Linked DNA regions of Homo sapiens: region 2 is linked to region 1. The links come from fine-mapping of genetic effects on gene expression. A gene starts in region 1. The other region holds a variant in brackets. All regions are shown on one strand. Distances are from middle to middle.

Region 1 (8,362 bases):
TACTATATAACTCATAAACATAGCATCAACTTTCTCTGGATTATAATTTATTGATGATGTAAGGAAAGTAAGTTTAGGCATCTCATTTTTAAACATATAGAGTGTAGTCTCCCAATCGTAGCATTATTGATGTTTTGTGCTGGATAACTGTTTGTTGCAGAAGGTTGTCATGTGCTCTGCAAGAATTTTAACAGCAGCCCTGGCCTCTGCCTCTCATTTGCTCCTCTCCTCCTCTGCCTCTTTTCTGCGACAACTAAAAATGTATTCCAATATTGCCAAATGTCCCTTTTGAGTAAAACAACCTGGATTGAGAACAACTGATGTAAACCTTTTTTATCAAGGAATATGCAGCAGGCCGATGCGGCACTTCTTCCTTGAATACCTTAAAGGAACAAATCTCTTTAGTAATCTCCCAGAATGGACTTATGAATATTTTCTGACAAAATTTCTCAGATCAATCTATCACTACCTATTTTCTTGCCCAATTCTTCATATAAATAAGTTTACAAAATCCATTCCAGGCATGTAATCTCATTGAATTTCCACAACATTAAGAATTGGGTACTAATAGCCACTGGGGAGCACCAAGTGCCACAAAAAGAAAGATTTGGAAGGAGACAGGCTAGAGTTTCAGTGCTTGCACCGTTTCCTGGCTCTAAAAACTGAGGCCAATTCTTTAGCTTTGGTGCACCTCAGTTTCCCCATCTGGAATGTGGAATCATTAATACCTTGGAGTGATAATGAGAGAATAAAACAAGATGAGAGATGTAACAATGCTTCACACTAACAGAGGCTCAATTAGCTGTACCTTTGATTATTATCGCTCTGAGTCCAGAGTTTTGTGTACTACATCACAGATACATAGCAGATTTCTCAATAGTGGCAGATTTTGCCCCTGTTCTGGCCACAGACCACTTTAAGAATCTTCTAAACAAAAAAAATTTCATAAGCAACACAAGTTGTAGACAATTTCAGGGTATCCACAGGTTCCCCTGAAATGTATATTGGATCCAAGTAAAGAGTCCCTCTAACGAGAGCCTTCTAATTTCAAACATCTTTCCTTCCAATTGACTCAAGTACATTGTGCCAAATCTCCTTCCTTGCTCACTGCTTTAAAATGGAACCACCTTCTGTGGAAATAAATTGATTCCTATTTCCTCTAACCTAATGCTAGAGGAAGATGCTTGACCAACACATCATTGAAATATGTCTTTGGTTTTGTGAAATAGAAACAGGCTTTCCAATTTCCCTTCTTCAGCAGAAAAGGGGAAGAAGGGTATTTGGTAAAAAGGGATTCAGGACATCCAACATGATTATCCACTGTATTAGTTTCCTATTACTATTGTAACAAATTACCATAAACTTAGCACAAACTTATTATCTTACAGTTCTGGAGGTCAAAATGGGCTGCATTAAGCTAAAATCGAGGGGCGGGCCACACTGCATTTCCTCCTGGAAGCTCTAGGGGAGAATCTAATTTTCCTGTCTTTTTCAGCTTTTAGAGTCTGCCTGCATTCCTTGGCTCATGGCCCCTTCTATCTTCAAAGCCAGCAATGGCCAGTTGAGTCTTTCTCCCATCACATCCCTTTGGCATTCACTCTTCTCCTTCCCTTTTCCATCTTTAAGAACCCTTGAGATTACATCTCACTCATTGGGATAATCCAGGATAATCTCCCTATTTAAAGTTCAGCTGATTAGCAAAGTTAATTCCATTTGCTACCATTCTCCTTTGCCATGTAATATAGAAATATTTGCAAGCTCTGGAAAAATTAGATATCCTTAAGAGGCTACTATTCCACCTTCTAGAGTCAAACATCTTGGTCTTTAATGATATAGTAGGAATAAACCTTGTTACGAACCCTGATGAACATCTTCAGTTTACAAAAGCAAGAAGTCGGCACTATATTTTGAGTTTTCACAGTAACAATTTACTTTTAGATAGTAATGTCCCCTCCAAAAATCCATATCATCTTTAAATAGTGTCCCTCAAAAACTATTTATACTCAATTCATAATTTTTCAGCAACTTGACGTCTTCCAACTTCTGATCACTTAGGAAACTGGAGAAATTCTTTACAGCTCACTACACAAAGTTAAGATAACTCACGTGTATTTTGCAAAGAAAGTTGCAAATACAGACAGAAATACCCATGGAAACTAAATCAAGCCTGCATGAATCAGGAGGAGCTCAAAGGAAATCAATGCATTGTTGGCAAAAGAAGACAAGGCTGCTCAGAAGGAACCGTAAGGGTTACACTGCACATTCACCAGCTAGCTTGCAGCCCCATTGCTTCATGGCACCTATCTCTTGAAAGCCCCTTACTACATCCTTCAGCAAATCCAACATCCTCATCTTCCTTATTCTCCTGGATCTTTTTGGTCATTTGCTTTCGTGTTCCTCCAGTGGACTGTCTGACTTTGCCTCTGATTCTTGATCCTTCTTTTTAAACCTTGATCCCTCCATTTTTTAATTTTTAATTTTTTAGAGACAGGTTCTGTTTCCCAAGCTGGAGTGATCATAACTCACTGCAGCTTCAAACTTCTGGGCTCAAGTGATCCTCCCATCTAAGCCTCCCAAGTAGCTGGGATAAAGGCACAAACCACACCTGGCTTGATATTTCCTTTATTTAGCACCACTTACCATCATAAAAATGGCTTCCAGGTCATTATCCTAACCACGTTTAATACAAGCCCCAATGTCCTTGGCATTTATTTGGTTCTTAGTCATATTTAATCTTGTTGCTGAACCAGTCTTCAAAAAAATTATTTCATGCCTTCTTTCTCCTTGTATTAGTCCATTCTTGCATTGCTATAAAGAACTACTTAAGACTAGGTAATTTATAAAGAAAAGGTATTTCATTGGCTGTACAGGAAGCATGGCTGCAGAAACTCACAATCATGGTAGAAGGTGAAGGGGAAGCAGGCATCGTCTTCACCTGGCAGAGCAGAAGAGAAAGAGAGCAAAGGGGGGAAGTGCTACACACCATTAACCAGATCCCATGAGAACTCACTCACTATCACAAGAACTGCAAGGGGGAAGTCTGCCACCATGATCCAATCACCTCCCACCAGGCCCCTCCTCCAACTTTGAGGATTACAGTTTGACATGATATTTGGGTGGGGTCACAGAGCCAAACTATATCACTCCTTAAACCTCAAATGCCTCCTCCTCTATTCACAAACATTCTAGCCTCCTTTCTTCCCAGAGGCCTAGCAAGATTGCACTCCACAGGCCCCCTTTGAAGTTAGACGTGGCAGTGTTACTTATTTCACCAATGATACGTAGACAAAAGGTCATATATCACTTCCAGAGACAGGCTTTAAGAGCCAGAGTGCCACTTTTCTTTTTTCCAATTTTGGCAAAAGAGAGCAAAGAAAGCCTCCTAGCTCCCTGAGTAAGGTTAGAGCAAGCAGCATCCTCTAGCTGATCTACAATAGACACTTAGCATGAGAGAGAAATAAACCTTTGATGTGTTAAACTGCTGAGATACAGGAAATAAGGAGGTTGTTTGTTATTATAACATCCCAGCCTATACTTTGCTTCCTAATTTGGTGAGAAAATAGAAGCAATCAGAAGAGAACTTCTACAACCTCCCATGACCACATGTGCGACTGATTAGTCACCCTATACTCTGTCCTCCTCCAATATTTGAATGAATTCTCCATATTCCTATCTAAAGCCCATCTTTTATCTTGTACACCAGATGGGAATATTTTTCCTTACTCAAGGCCGACATTCAAATATTTCTCTTCTTTGTCTCTTACATAATCAATGTTTCCCTTTCTACTAGATCCCCTTCATCAGTAAACATACATAATATCTCCTGTTTTGAAACAATCTCTCCACTAGTTAACAGCACCCCAACCCCATCTCCAATGTGCTGTAATACTTGCTCCTATTCTCTTCGGAATTATCTCACTAGGTTCTGCTTGGCCCACTACACTGAAAACTGCTTTTGTCAGGGTAACCAATAATATTGAATTTACTAAGTCTGGAAGTCAAACCTTGGTCCTCACATTGACTTGGTTGACCATATTCCTTCCTTCTTGAAATATTTTTGTACATGGCTTCCAGGACACAACTATCCTACCTACTAATCCTCTTCCTACCTCACTGGCTGTTCCCTCTTGATCTCACAAAGCCTAAATGTTGGGGTTCAGGTCTTGGGTGTCTTTTCTTCTTCATTCACACCCTCTTGCCAGGTGACCTCATCCAGTTTCATGGTTTTACACTGTCAACTGAAGAATAACGAGGTTCATAAATTTAGAAAGGAGAGCTTTATTTTTCATAAAGAGTACTGAGTGTCAAGTATGTGCCAAGCAAGGTGTCTGCCACTGACGGAGCAATGCCCAAGCAGCGGACACCAAGGCCAAGAAGGCGAAGGCTGGACAGAAGGTCCTGAGAAAACCGTGAGAATATGGAGGAGGGGGAGGAGGAATAAGAACAGGAGGAGGAGGGGGAGGAGGAATAAGAACAGGAGGAGGAGGAAGAGGAGGGGGAGAGAGGAAGAGGGGCAGGAGGAAGAGGAAGAGGAGAAAGCGGAAGTGGGGGAGGAGGAGGAGGAGTTGGAAGGGGAGGAGGAAGAGGGGGAGCAGGAAGAGGGGCAGAAGGAAGAAGAAGAGGGGGAGGAGAAAGAGATAGAAGAGTAAGAGGAGGGGGAAGAAAGACAAGGGGAAGGGGAGGAGGAGGAGGACGGGGAGGAGCTTCGCCGCGGCCTGCTCCGCCCAGCCGGGGTCGGTGGCCGCATGGCTTCGGTCTCCTCTGCGACCTTCTCGGGCCACGGGGCTCGGTCCCTACTGCAGTTCCTGCGGCTGGTAGGGCAGCTCAAGGTGAGCGGGCACCAGGCCGGGAGGCCGCGGCCGAGCGGGCGGGACTGTGGGGCGGCGGAGCTTCCGGCCTCCCCGCTCGGCCGGCGGTCTTTGCCCTTCCTGCGCCGCGTCCGCCACGCCGAATTCCGGAAAGGCCCCAGTCCTGCGGATGCGGCCGCGCGTTGCCGACGGTGGACGGAGGAAGCAGCCGGCGGGACAGGCTGGCCAGCTGGGGCGGCCCGGAGTCTGAGCCTAGAGCCTGGCGCCGCGAGGTCCGCACTGCAGCCGCGCCAGTTCCCGGAGAGCAGCCGGCCTGGCCCTGCCTGCACTGAGCTTTTCCGGGGCTCACGACCCCAGAACTCGTGTGTGTGTGTGTGTGTGTGTGTGCTCACGACCCCAGAACTCGTGTGTGTGTGTGTGTGTGTGTAAAGCGCGGCTGCTTCTGAGCACGGGTGGGAAGAACAGAATCTGTCGGCTCCTCAGATTTTAAGTGGAGCTTTTTATGTCTGTCTCACAGTTACTTCCAGAAACAAGACTTTTCTCCCGGCCACCCCCCAAACGGGATTTAATGTAATACACACGAGTTTCATCATGTGCGTCTTCCCCGTCTCTCTCCCAAGTTCAAAGTAAATTATCCGTTTCATGCCACTCTGACTACTATTTATAACATTCCTTAGAGATGTAGAATTCTGAGGAAGAAATGCAGTTTCACAAGATGAAGTTATGATGTGAATAAAAGGAAGAGTCACGGCTGGTAGCATCAAGCAATTAGAAGTGCCCTTATCCCTTGTGCCTCAGAATTTGGAAGCCTATCACTCGTTCACGTTCAGACCCTTCAATACAGTGTTTTCTGCTTGTGTAGGATTATTTGAAGGCAAAAAGCCGCAACTCTTGTTCGGAAAAATGCAGTTTTGTTTTTGTTTAAAGGACTTGCATATGTTCCATAATTATACATCAGTAACAGAATAATTTGACGAATGGACTTTGTGACTTATCTCTCTCTGTCTTCTACCCCTTTCATTCTCTGAGCTCTCTAGTTCATTTGATTCCAGATGTCTATCATTTTAGCTAGTTTAGCAAAACATTTTGTAATAGGTTCTGAAATTATGACCCGGCTTCTGTGTGTTATATCCTGGACATCTCTTGAAGAGCATAGCAGATAGTTAATATTTGTTCTTTAAAACTTCTTTTTCTTCTTCATATTTATCAGAGAGTCCCACGAACTGGCTGGGTATACAGAAATGTCCAGAGGCCGGAGAGCGTTTCAGATCACATGTACCGGATGGCAGTTATGGCTATGGTGATCAAAGATGACCGTCTTAACAAAGACCGGTAAGCTGAGCTGGACTTTGATGCTCGTGAGAGATTCTGGTCTATGGGTGTGCACCCGTTTTTACTACTGAGACCCATGTCAAATCCTTGTAGGTTAGTTTATAGGTCAAGAAAAATTATTTGAAGCAAACCATACAAATTTAGGATGTGGGTTATGTTGCCTCAGTTGTTGTAAACTGCAATCTGGGGTTTCTGTTGGCAAGTGATAGAGCCTGCCTAGGGTATCAGGGGAAACTTAAGTGTGATATTGGGGCCTTGAAGGTGAGTGTGTTATGTCTAAAATTCTAGCATTGTATTAGTACACTGTGTGCTCTTTCCTAGTGCCTTTTATGGATAGTAGTATCCATTCGTGAGGCTTCCTTTTGGAGTTGTGTGTGCAAGACATAGCTGAGAAAGAGGTATCTTCTCCCCCTTCATTTAATCGACAAGTGTTAAAATGCTTTTTGAGCACAGAACAAAAGTTTACTAGCATGTAAGAGAGTAAATAAATCCCAAGTGAATTACGCAGGCCCAAAATAGCTTCTGTAAGAAGTGAAATGTAAGTTATGGTCGAAAATGTTAAGTATTGTAAGAGCAGGGGAGATCACCTGTTCTTGGTTGATCTTAATGGAGGAGGTGCAATCTGAGTTGAGCTCAAAAGGGTTAACGTAGCCAGAGAGGTAGGAGAAGTCACTGCATGCAGAGAGAAGGGCAGATAAACCAAAGCCCTGAGTGTAGGAAAGTAAAGGAGTATTTTGCAAATGAGAAATTAATCAACTTGACTGCAGCAAAGAGTTCATTTGGGAAGCCTGAGGAGTCCTCTGTTACTCAGCAGATGAAGTGGAACTGAGGAGGTTTTTGGCAAATGGTACAAGGTGAAAATGAAGTCCAATAGAGATGCAGTTTGGAGTAGTCTGGGATTTGAACTGGACCAGAAAGAGACTAGAGGCAGGGAAATCTCAGAGGACACTGTTGGGCCTTGTACTGCCTTGGTAGTGTGGGGAGCCTAAAACATACTGGCCCTATGGGGCATTTATCTCATTACTTGACTTCCTGTTTTGATGATGAATTATCACAACCACTATTCCTTAACCGCTAATAATCATAACCACTTATTGAATGATTCACATGTGTCAGGAACATGAAAGTTGTCAAATGTAATCTCGTTTTTTTTTGTTGAGACAGTCTCACTCTGTCGCCCAGGCTGGAGTGCAGTGGTGCAGTGTCAGCCAACTACAACCTCCACCTCCCAGATTCAAATGATTCTCCTGCCTGAGCCTCCTGAGTAGCTGGGATTACAGGTGTGTGCCACCACACCCAGCTAATTTTTGTATTTTTAGTAGAGATGGGGTTTCACCATGTTGCTAGGCTGGTCTCGAACTCCTGACCTCAGGTGATCCGCCACCTCGGCCTCCCAAAGTGCTGGTATGACAGGCGTGAGCCACCGCACCTGGCCTATTAGCCTTTTAAAGTGAGATTTCAGAGATAAACCATTTAAGAAAAAAAATTAATGCTAACAATTTCCCCTATACTCACATGTATTTTATTGAATATGAACTAACAGTTTTGATCAGAACTGTTGTAGGCTGGCAGAATATAACTACTTTAGAAAATACTACATTAAAATACTCTGTGAGGGTGGAGAAAAAATATATATATTATATAACTTTGGAAGAGTATAGAGAAGGAACTTGTAGTAAATATAATTCTGTGTAATTATTCGACATTTCTTGCCTGATCAGATGTGTACGCCTAGCCCTGGTTCATGATATGGCAGAATGCATCGTTGGGGACATAGCACCAGCAGATAACATCCCCAAAGAAGAAAAACATAGGCGAGAAGAGGTCAGTGTTGACTATTGACTGTGCAAAAAACCACCAGAAAAACCTCTTGCTGAAGCAAAGCTAAGTTTATGAGACCTGTTACAGTTAGGGAGAATACCGCCTTGATAGTCTTAGTAGTGTCTTAGGAAGGGGAAGGTCAGGGGAAGATATTTTTAGAGATTCAGGGCCTGGGCTGGAGAATATTAAGATGGATCTGACAAGTTAGGCAACTAGCTGGGATTGCACAGTTTAGGATATAATAGATTTAGATTGGTAAACATGTGAAGGAAGGTCGTAATGAGTTTTGAAGAATAAACTGTTAGTGTTGACCCAGTTTTAGGGGGTTTACAGCCTTATCTTCCAGAAGCAGGGATTTCCTGGAATAAGCAGCAGATTGGATTTTGCTTGTTGTGTTAGTC
Region 2 (8,677 bases), 29 kb after region 1:
AGAGTCCTGGTGTTAGGCTGTGAAATTACAGAAGTGTCTCTGATGGATTTCTAAACAGTAGAGAAATGGGGCCGATACAGAATGTACTTGTAGCTGTCACTCTGATTTCGGGTACCAGAGTCAGAATTTTCCCAGGATACCCTATTATGCAGCGCTAATCATGCTGCTTTAATTGTCCCTTTACTTAGGAGTACGAGACCCAATCTAGTGCAGAAGCCAAATTTGTGAAGCAGCTAGACCAATGTGAAATGATTCTTCAAGCATCTGAATATGAAGACCTTGAACACAAACCTGGGAGACTGCAAGACTTCTATGATTCCACAGCAGGTACTCAACACCATTTTCAACAAGAGTCCATTTTAGTTTGGCTTACTCAGTGTAGTGACTAATGTTAATATTAGGGAAACCCACTGTTGGTACCTTCATCTGACCCTTTCATGTGGAGCATCTAAAAAGAAAGGGAAGGAAACATTCGGGTAAGAGGCTGAGGATAGGAAATAAATGGAATAGAGTTTAATGTGGAATGAACAGTAAGCAACAACAGACACAGGCAAGAAAAGACGGTGAGAGAAGAGATGTTGGGTTGAACAGTCCCCCATGCTAGCCGTCATGGACATACAATAGCTTAGAGCTTGGTTGCTACCAAAGCAGAAATCTGGGGAGGTCTGAGGAGCAGGGATGACAGCACAGATCAGCCAATTGAAGTGTAGAGGTGTTTACAAGAGAGACACCTGCATCCTTGTTTACATCATGAGCCAGCCTAGCCCCTCTGATCTTCCTCCTTGTCTTTTCATATATAGGTGCTTCATTCTCCTTACTTAATTGCAGGTTTGGAATGGGCAGAGATTGTCTTCAGCTTTCTGGGCTCTCACACCTGAGTTTTCCCATAGTTCCTGGTAGAGGCACTGAGGAGCCTGGTGAAGTTTCCCCTACCTCTGCCTAATTGATGATTCCTTGCCTGAGTCTCATCCTTATTCTCAGTTGCACCTGGGGTGACAGAGCGTAAATGCCAAGTGGTCCCCTTCAGCCCCTTCCCAGGACCTGGAATCTCTTTCTGCTTTGGAATGAAGTGTGGGTCAGATCGTAGACTAGAGCCCCCAGTGAACCCTGGGATCAAGCTGGGGAAATGAATATACTCTCTTGTCAATATGGGAATGTATTTTTCCCTGTTCTTTTGCTTTGCAGGAAAATTCAATCACCCTGAGATAGTCCAGCTTGTTTCTGAACTTGAGGCAGAAAGAAGCACTAACATAGCTGCAGCTGCCAGTGAGCCACACTCCTGAGACACTCTCTAAATTGCTGCACTCCTGTAACAAACATTATTTTTCCATTTCATTGTATTGTGTTTTGCCATTGTTGGTCTGTTGATTTCCCTAGATGTGAGTCTGTTTGTTTTCAATTGTCTGAACTTCAGCAAGAAATGTGATACAACTTGGGCACTAAAAGAAGCCACAGAACAGGAAGCGGTCATGAAAGTGCCATGGATGAACACTGGAGGTGGCAGTGCCTGTTTATGAACTAAATAAATAAATATTAAACACCTAAAATATTAGAATATTTATTGGAGATTTAAAATCATCTTATTCTGACTTAATTACCGATATCCCCGAAGGCTAGGTTCATTGAATAATAGAAAATTTCATTATGATTGCTTTTAAGAACAGATTCTTCAGCTGATTTAGTGATAAGAATCCAGAAAAGAAAATGTACTAGTGATGTATTCTCTCCCCAGATGAAATTGCTGCCTTATTCAGATTTACTCTCTTGAGCCAGATTTTGAATTTCACTGCAGACTGCTTCAGACTTCTAATCATAGGCTTGTAAACCTACTAATAGGCTCTGCCCCTCTTCCCAATACTTTTTGTCATTTAGAGATATAAACCGGGGCATATAAAAATGCAACTTGTATTCCTTTGTATATTTTTCCCTGTCTGACTTATAAATCTTGAGACCTTTATTGTAAAAGCATGTATCATCAGGTGAGAAATATAAATAGGAACTGGGGTCATTGAGCCTCAGGTAGGGAATATATCAACCCGATTTCTTCCTCTCTTTTCCCTTTTATAGGATAAATAATCCACCCTGTCTGCCTTTACATTGAATAGTGCAAAAAAGAATACGATTTCTGCAAACCTGCCCAGTGTTTTGGTGTGGAGCAATGATGCTTGTCCCTTTAATTCAAATGTCACTTTCCATTTGAAGGCCTTCGAGGCTGGCATGGTGAAAATTCTAGGCAGTGTTTCTTTGGAAACTCTTTGCGGTATCCATGGATACCCAATCTGCAGGAAGCAAGGTGCATGATCTTTTCAGAAGCAACACACATATGTATGTGTAATTGCTCTGTATCAAAAAGAAGAAAGAGGGTAAAGTCCATTACTGGATATATGGTTAGTAGGAAAACAACTCCATCTATTAGGATTGTGGAGTTTTTCCCTTGGCATGAAAACATACACACAAAATAACCCCAGATAAAGTTCAAGTATTTATAACCAGAAGGTGTTCTGTGGCCCTGCAGTTTTATTTTCAATGTTTTGTCTACCATAATTTTCATAAATAGCTAACAAAACAATTCACAGAGAGACTTTGGAAACTTCTACTGGGTTAGACTTTATAACTAGTCACTTAACCATTATCTCAGTTCATCATCTACCTACGAAATGGGAGTTTTCAGTTAGTCCTAAACCTTCCTTCCTGAGGAAATACATCTTTTAAAGAAAGAAAGAAAAAAATATAATAGTGTTATAAATAAAACATTTGATGATAAGAAAATAACAAAATGAAGATCAACAAAATAACAGCTCCTGAGCCTACCAGCAATGTCTATAAATGAGCATTATTACTTAAAAATGTTAGTCCTTAGAAGATACCTGCCATTTGCCTAGACTTTGTCTTCTGAATGACAACCCTATAATTACAATGCAGAGTAAATAATTATTCATGGTTTGAACTCAAGAAAAAAGAATTATTTGTTACTGTTTGTCAGATTCTAGCCCAAACTGAGGTCCAAAGGGAGTTGGTGGGCTGGTGGCAGGTAGCTGGAAAAACTTGAGGAATCGTAGGCAGTTTTGACATGGCGTTATTCTCTCTCTAGGCGCGAGCCATATGTACAGCATCAGCAGGGTAGTTAAACCTTTTAGAGACAATAATGGATCCCAGCCAAGCACAGGCTCATGTGAATGGTCACCTAATGTGCCTCACGTGGCATGGTTACATAATGTGTAGAGTTGTGTGCCTGCGTTCCAAACCCACTGAGTCATGCTGTGCCAGAAGGCTGCCTCAGCCTACTCCTGACTAAAATGCAGCCATTTCCCTTACACTCCATCCCCTAGGCTGAGAGGAGTCTTTCAGGTAGGGATACGTGCCCATAGGGTGGAGCCCTGAATCCATAACCCACAACACTACAGAGAGCAACAGCTCATTACCAGGATCCCAGCTATGCTACTTAGGACTGTAAGGGCCCAGCGTAGGCCACAGCCCAGAGATGCCCACCATCTCTGCAGGGGGTTGTCAGTAAGGCTCTCCACCACCTTAATCTCCCATGAGACCTCTTGCAGGGCTGCTGTTATGTTCTGCCAATTGTCAGGGATAAAGGTACAACATTGTGTTCCTAAAAGGGCACAGGTGCCTCCTTGTGCAGCAGGTTACTATGTCTAAGGCCATTCAGTTTTGCAATACCACCTTTCTCATCTGACCAGCCTCATCCATTAACAGGAGGAGGGCCACTTGGGTGTAATTCAGAGCCCGAGTGGTGTGCTCTGCAAGAGCAGTAACTTGTGCTTCTACAGTTGTGACACCCGCCGCAGGGATAGTCACTGTCAAGGGGTAGAACCACTGGGGAGCTCGTCGCACTCACAAAAAATGAGAGTGTAGCGCCTTCCAGTTATGCAGTGTCTGGGCAATGTGGAGAGAACAGTGGCCACCCCCAGTTCCAACATTCCGTCCAGTTCACTGGTAGGTAAGGCCACCCTGTGTGCCCACAGACCCATAAACTCCCAGGGGGCACAAAGTCCCTTGGGGCCCAAACTTGGGGGCTGCTTGTTCCAGCATACCTTCAGTATGGTGACATGTGTTATGTTTACACAGGCTGTGATGGGTACCTATCCCACAGTGGTGTTACCCCAGTGTTGCTCTATGCTCTGCGACACCTGGGCTGGGGGTACTACATGTTCCCCCGCTAGCCAGCCCCAGCCATCATAAATGCTATGGGCCAGCCACATGATGGGAGCACCATGGATCTTGCAGCGTCCTTTGTCCAAAGCTTGCTGCGTTGCATTCCAGATGTCAACCACGGGACCCCAAGTCTCCAGCCATGTCCAGTTCTCTGTAGACACTGAATGTATATGCCAAGGCAAGTCATCTGCAGCTGCTGCTGGAAGGGCAGTGCAGACCCGAAAGTTGGAAACATTGATCACCTCAGCACAGGTGTGGGCGCAGTTTACAATGCAGTTGGAGCATGTTAACCTATGGCCAAAATGACAGAGCAGGCACAGCTACTAACAGAGGTAAGTGACGTCCCTCAGGCAAAATACAGGCTAACTTTTCATCCATGGATAACAATGCAGCTGCCAAGAGCTTCTGCCCTGGGCGATGGTACCACACCTTCTCAGCTCCCCATGGTTCCTATGGGTCCGGTATCTATGCCAAAGTCAAGGGGAAGCTCATAATAGGCCACACAGACAGTACTTATGTCCCCCAGAGGAGCGTTTCTTCCCTGGCTGTTGCCCTAAGAACAATCAACCAAGGGTGACATGTATTGAATGCCCAAGGAGTGACATGCAAGTCATACTGTAGGTCTTCCCCACAGGGAGCTACAACGGCCAACCACCAGCAGTGGGGAGCCTGGAGGGTCCATGGCCAGAGCCAGGTTTTCTGTTCCCCTCCCTTCAGGGGCATTGGGGCAAGCAACAAAAGGTTACCGTTCGTCCCCATACCTGGTCGGAGGAGGTCATCCTTAGTGTGTATCTGCAACTGAATAGGGGTGGTGGCCCAGTGTAATAAAGCCTCCACCAGGGCTGGGCGGTCTTTCCATGGCTGTTCATTCAAGGTTTGAACCACCAGGTCCAGCTTGGAACTCCAGCACTGCAAAGACGGGTGTGACATGCAAGTGTA[A/T]CCCATTCTTCAAGAGCCCTTTATATTGCTCAATCATACCCACAGCTTGTGGGTTGTATGGCACATGGAATCCCCACTTTATGTCCATTTGTTGTGCACATTGTTGTACCTGTTGTCCAGTGAAATGGGTGCTCTATCACTCTCTATGGCCAGAGGGCAACCATACAGGGCACATAAGTGTTGCAGGACCCGGAGGATGTGCTGTTGGTTGGCCACCCTGCAAGGGTAGATGTACAACAGGCTTGTGGCCATGTCCACAGCTGTTAGCACATGTGTATACCCTTGCAATTTTGGCAGCGGACCGATGTAGTCTACTTACCACCTGGTCAAGATCACTCGCCCTGTTGTCACTTGTGTAAAAGTGGGCAGCTGCCTCCATTTAGGGTATGACCAAGCACATACTGGGCATTTCTGACGAGCCTCCCAAATACCTTGCATGGGCAGGGACAGACCCCAACACTTATTGCCCTGTTACATCAGTTTGCCCCTGGCATGTCCCAGTTTCTGGTGTAGCCAGAAGGCCACATCTTGTGTTGGTGCCGACTAACCATTGGACCTTGGCCAAGACATCTGCCTCATCATTGCCAAAGGTGGCCAAAGGCATATGGCCTGACACATGATAAATAATTACATCTTTCTGATGATCCATTTCCCAGAGGTCTTGCCACATCACTTGGCTCCATGACATAGGTCAGTGGCTGACTAGCCAATTTTGTATTTTCCAAGTAGTTAACCACAAGGTTAAGCCTCGGTAGGCTGCCCAGCTATCGGTACAAATCACCATAGATATCTGCTCCTTAGTGATCACCATCTATACTGCTGTAAGTTCAGCCCATTGGCTACTTTGCCCACACCTGGTTTCAAACCATATGGTGTCTGTACTAGGTTGGACTGCAACAGCGGTCCAGGCAGCATTAGATCCTTGGCTAGACCCATCTGTGTACCATGCCCCATCAGGAATGGGGGGTACCCTTCCTTAAACGGTGATGGCTTGGGGTCTAGGGGTGCCCCAGGCCCTATAGCCTTCTCTTGCATTAGGACTATAGGTCCCAAGACCTCTTGCAATTCTGCTGCCAAGGGTCTTGTACTCAGCAAACTTTGCTGCTCCAAGTAGGTGCCCCACTTTGCCAAAGTAGATGTCTGTGCCATCCCAGTCCAGGGGGGCATTATCCATGAACACATCCATCCCACTATTGGGTAAGCCATCCACATGATGACTGTAGCCCATCCTGTCACACTTTCACAAGACTGAAATGCTGCATATACAGCTGCTAGCTGTTTCTCTATCAAGGACTGTTGGAGCTCAGCTCCTTTCCACAGTTAAGACCAAAAGCCTACTAGTGTTCTCAGGCACTCTGTATGCTGCCACAGGCCCCAACTGAAACCATCTGTGCTCACATGCACATCCAGCTCAAACAGGTGCCCCTGGCCAACTACCCATAGGGCTTGTGCCTGCTGAATAGCCCACTTGGCTGCCAGGAAAGCGGTCTCAGCCATATCCCAATTCCAGGTAGCTCTCTTCTTTGTTAACCGTGCAACAGTTTTGTCATTTGAGCTAAATGGGGCAGAAATGCCCCCCAGTATCCCAGGAAGCCCACAAAAGTTTGTAGCTGCTTCACCGTGGTGGGCCAGGGCTATGCCTGAATTTTGTCAATAATAGCCTCTGGTATGGCCATCATCTTACCTAGACAGGAAACTTCCAATAATTTGGCAGATAATCCAGACCCTTGGACCTTGGATTCATTGATGGCCCAACTGCATGCTGCCAAATGTTGCTGCAAGAGAGGCACCGCCACATCTAAATCTACAAGAGAATCAGAGGTTAACATATCATCAATATAATGGAATAGGTGGACCCCTTCTGCACATTGCCAAGTGGCTAAATCCATGACAACAAGACCATGACATATGGTGGGGCTATGCACATAGCGCTGCGGCCACATTGTAAAAGTCCATTGTTGCCCTTGTCACGTGAAGGCAAACTGTTCCTGGCTCTTGGAGCAATGTCGATGGAGAAAAATGCATTGACCAAGTCCACCACATAGTGGTACTGTCCCAGTTCCATTGTCAAGCAGTCCATCAAATCCATGATTGACGGTACAGCTGCACTCAAAGCGGGTGTTACTTTATTCAGTTCCTGATAGTTTACCGTCATCCGCCTAGTTCCATCAAGCTTTCTAACTGGCCACACTGGAGAATTGTAGGAGCTGTGGATGCCACACACTATCTGCACCTCCTCCAGCTTTTAAATTGTCTCAGTTATCTTCATATGCCCACCCAGCAAATGGTATTGATGGGTGGAAGTAACCAGTTGGGGTTGTGACAGGACCTGAGGCTTGTGATGCCTATGTCCTTGCAGCACCAGCTTCACCAGATGCACTAGGAGTCTGAATTCCCTGGCCGTAGTTTGTAACGCCAGGCCATGTAAAATGTCCACCACCAGGATGTATTCAGGTATGGGGGAGACATACACAGTATATAAACAGGGAGCCAAGTGGCCAATGCCGAGGTACAGAGACACAGGTTTCACTTTCAGTAACCAGCCTCCATAAACATAAATGTAACAGCCTTGCCCAGAAACTTATCTGATTCTCATACACAAGGCTACAATCTGTGCCAATATCTACCAGCACTGACACCCGCTGTACGTTAGTGGGGGACCAGTGAATTGCTAATTCTACATGTGGCCACTGGTCATCTGGTGTCCCCCCAAGCTGGGCACATTGGCCAGTTCCCTAATCAAACAGAAAAGGCTCTACATTTCAGCCTGGCTGCAGCAAGTAGTCCTTGAGTTGGAGCACCTGGGCGGGAATGGGTCACGCAGCAATGTCCTTCTTCCCCTTGGTATTTTCCAGAATTGCTTCTCTGGAGACAAGTGTCTCCACAAAGTTAAGAATACTTCATTGGGCAGTTTATTGATTTTCTCTCAGTCAACCCTGGACAAAATCAAATCTACCCACATCTGTGAGTGTGTCACTCATTGGGGCCCCCTTTTTGCCCATGCGGGAGCCCCCTGTGGGCAGGGCACCTTCCTCTTCTTTATGGTGTGGACCCCTCAGTCCCACCGATGGCCTTCTGCTTCCCCGAGAGCTGCTATAGCAGTGGTCACTTCATGTATGCGGTGCCCTACCTACAGGGTGAGGACAGCAGCTAGGAAGCCAAAGGTGCTCGGGGGTGCAGAGGTAAACATTCATCACCTGGCCCCCGGGTATTCAGGTCAAACATAGCCTGCCATATAACCATCGCCCAGATGACTTGCACCAAATCAGCATATGACTGCCATTTACTCACAGTTTCAGTTATTTCACCAATGTCATTTCACACAGTCCATATGGCTGCCCAAAGCCACTCAATCAGGGTGTGGTAACCTTGCCCTGCCACTAGCCACCTGCTTACTTGCAACCACTGAAGGAGGGAGGGGAGTCATGATGGAGGCCAGCTTTTCCATCCCAGAGGCAGAACAGGGATACTGTCTGCTCCCTCATCCCACAAATGAAGCATGCAGTTGGGCAGGGGTTCCCCTGGACACTGGCGGCACTACTTGCCTAATTCCTGCAACTCAGTTGGG

What was found. PIP is the estimated chance that this variant, and not a neighbour inherited with it, causes the effect.
Region 2: its variant is fine-mapped to the expression of HDDC2 in whole blood (INTERVAL, PIP 0.99).

Annotation. Positions count from the first base shown.
Region 1 is chr6:125,298,316-125,306,677 of GRCh38, reverse strand. HDDC2 (HD domain containing 2) reads left to right here and starts at 4,711. Exons shown (of 6, transcript NM_016063.3): 1 at 4,711-4,829; 2 at 6,019-6,140; 3 at 7,862-7,964. The coding sequence starts at 4,746. RefSeq lists a cis regulatory region at 3,008-3,188 and a silencer at 4,682-5,021.
Region 2 is chr6:125,268,752-125,277,428 of GRCh38, reverse strand. It overlaps HDDC2 (HD domain containing 2), which reads left to right. Exons shown (of 6, transcript NM_016063.3): 5 at 189-327; 6 at 1,186-2,079. The coding sequence ends at 1,283. LOC124901395 (a long non-coding RNA gene) reads right to left here. Exons shown (of 2, transcript XR_007059736.1): 2 at 1,509-6,913. Among named protein-coding and RNA genes, the nearest start is that of HDDC2, 29 kb to the left of the region's middle. The variant A/T (reference allele first, on the strand shown) is at 5,110.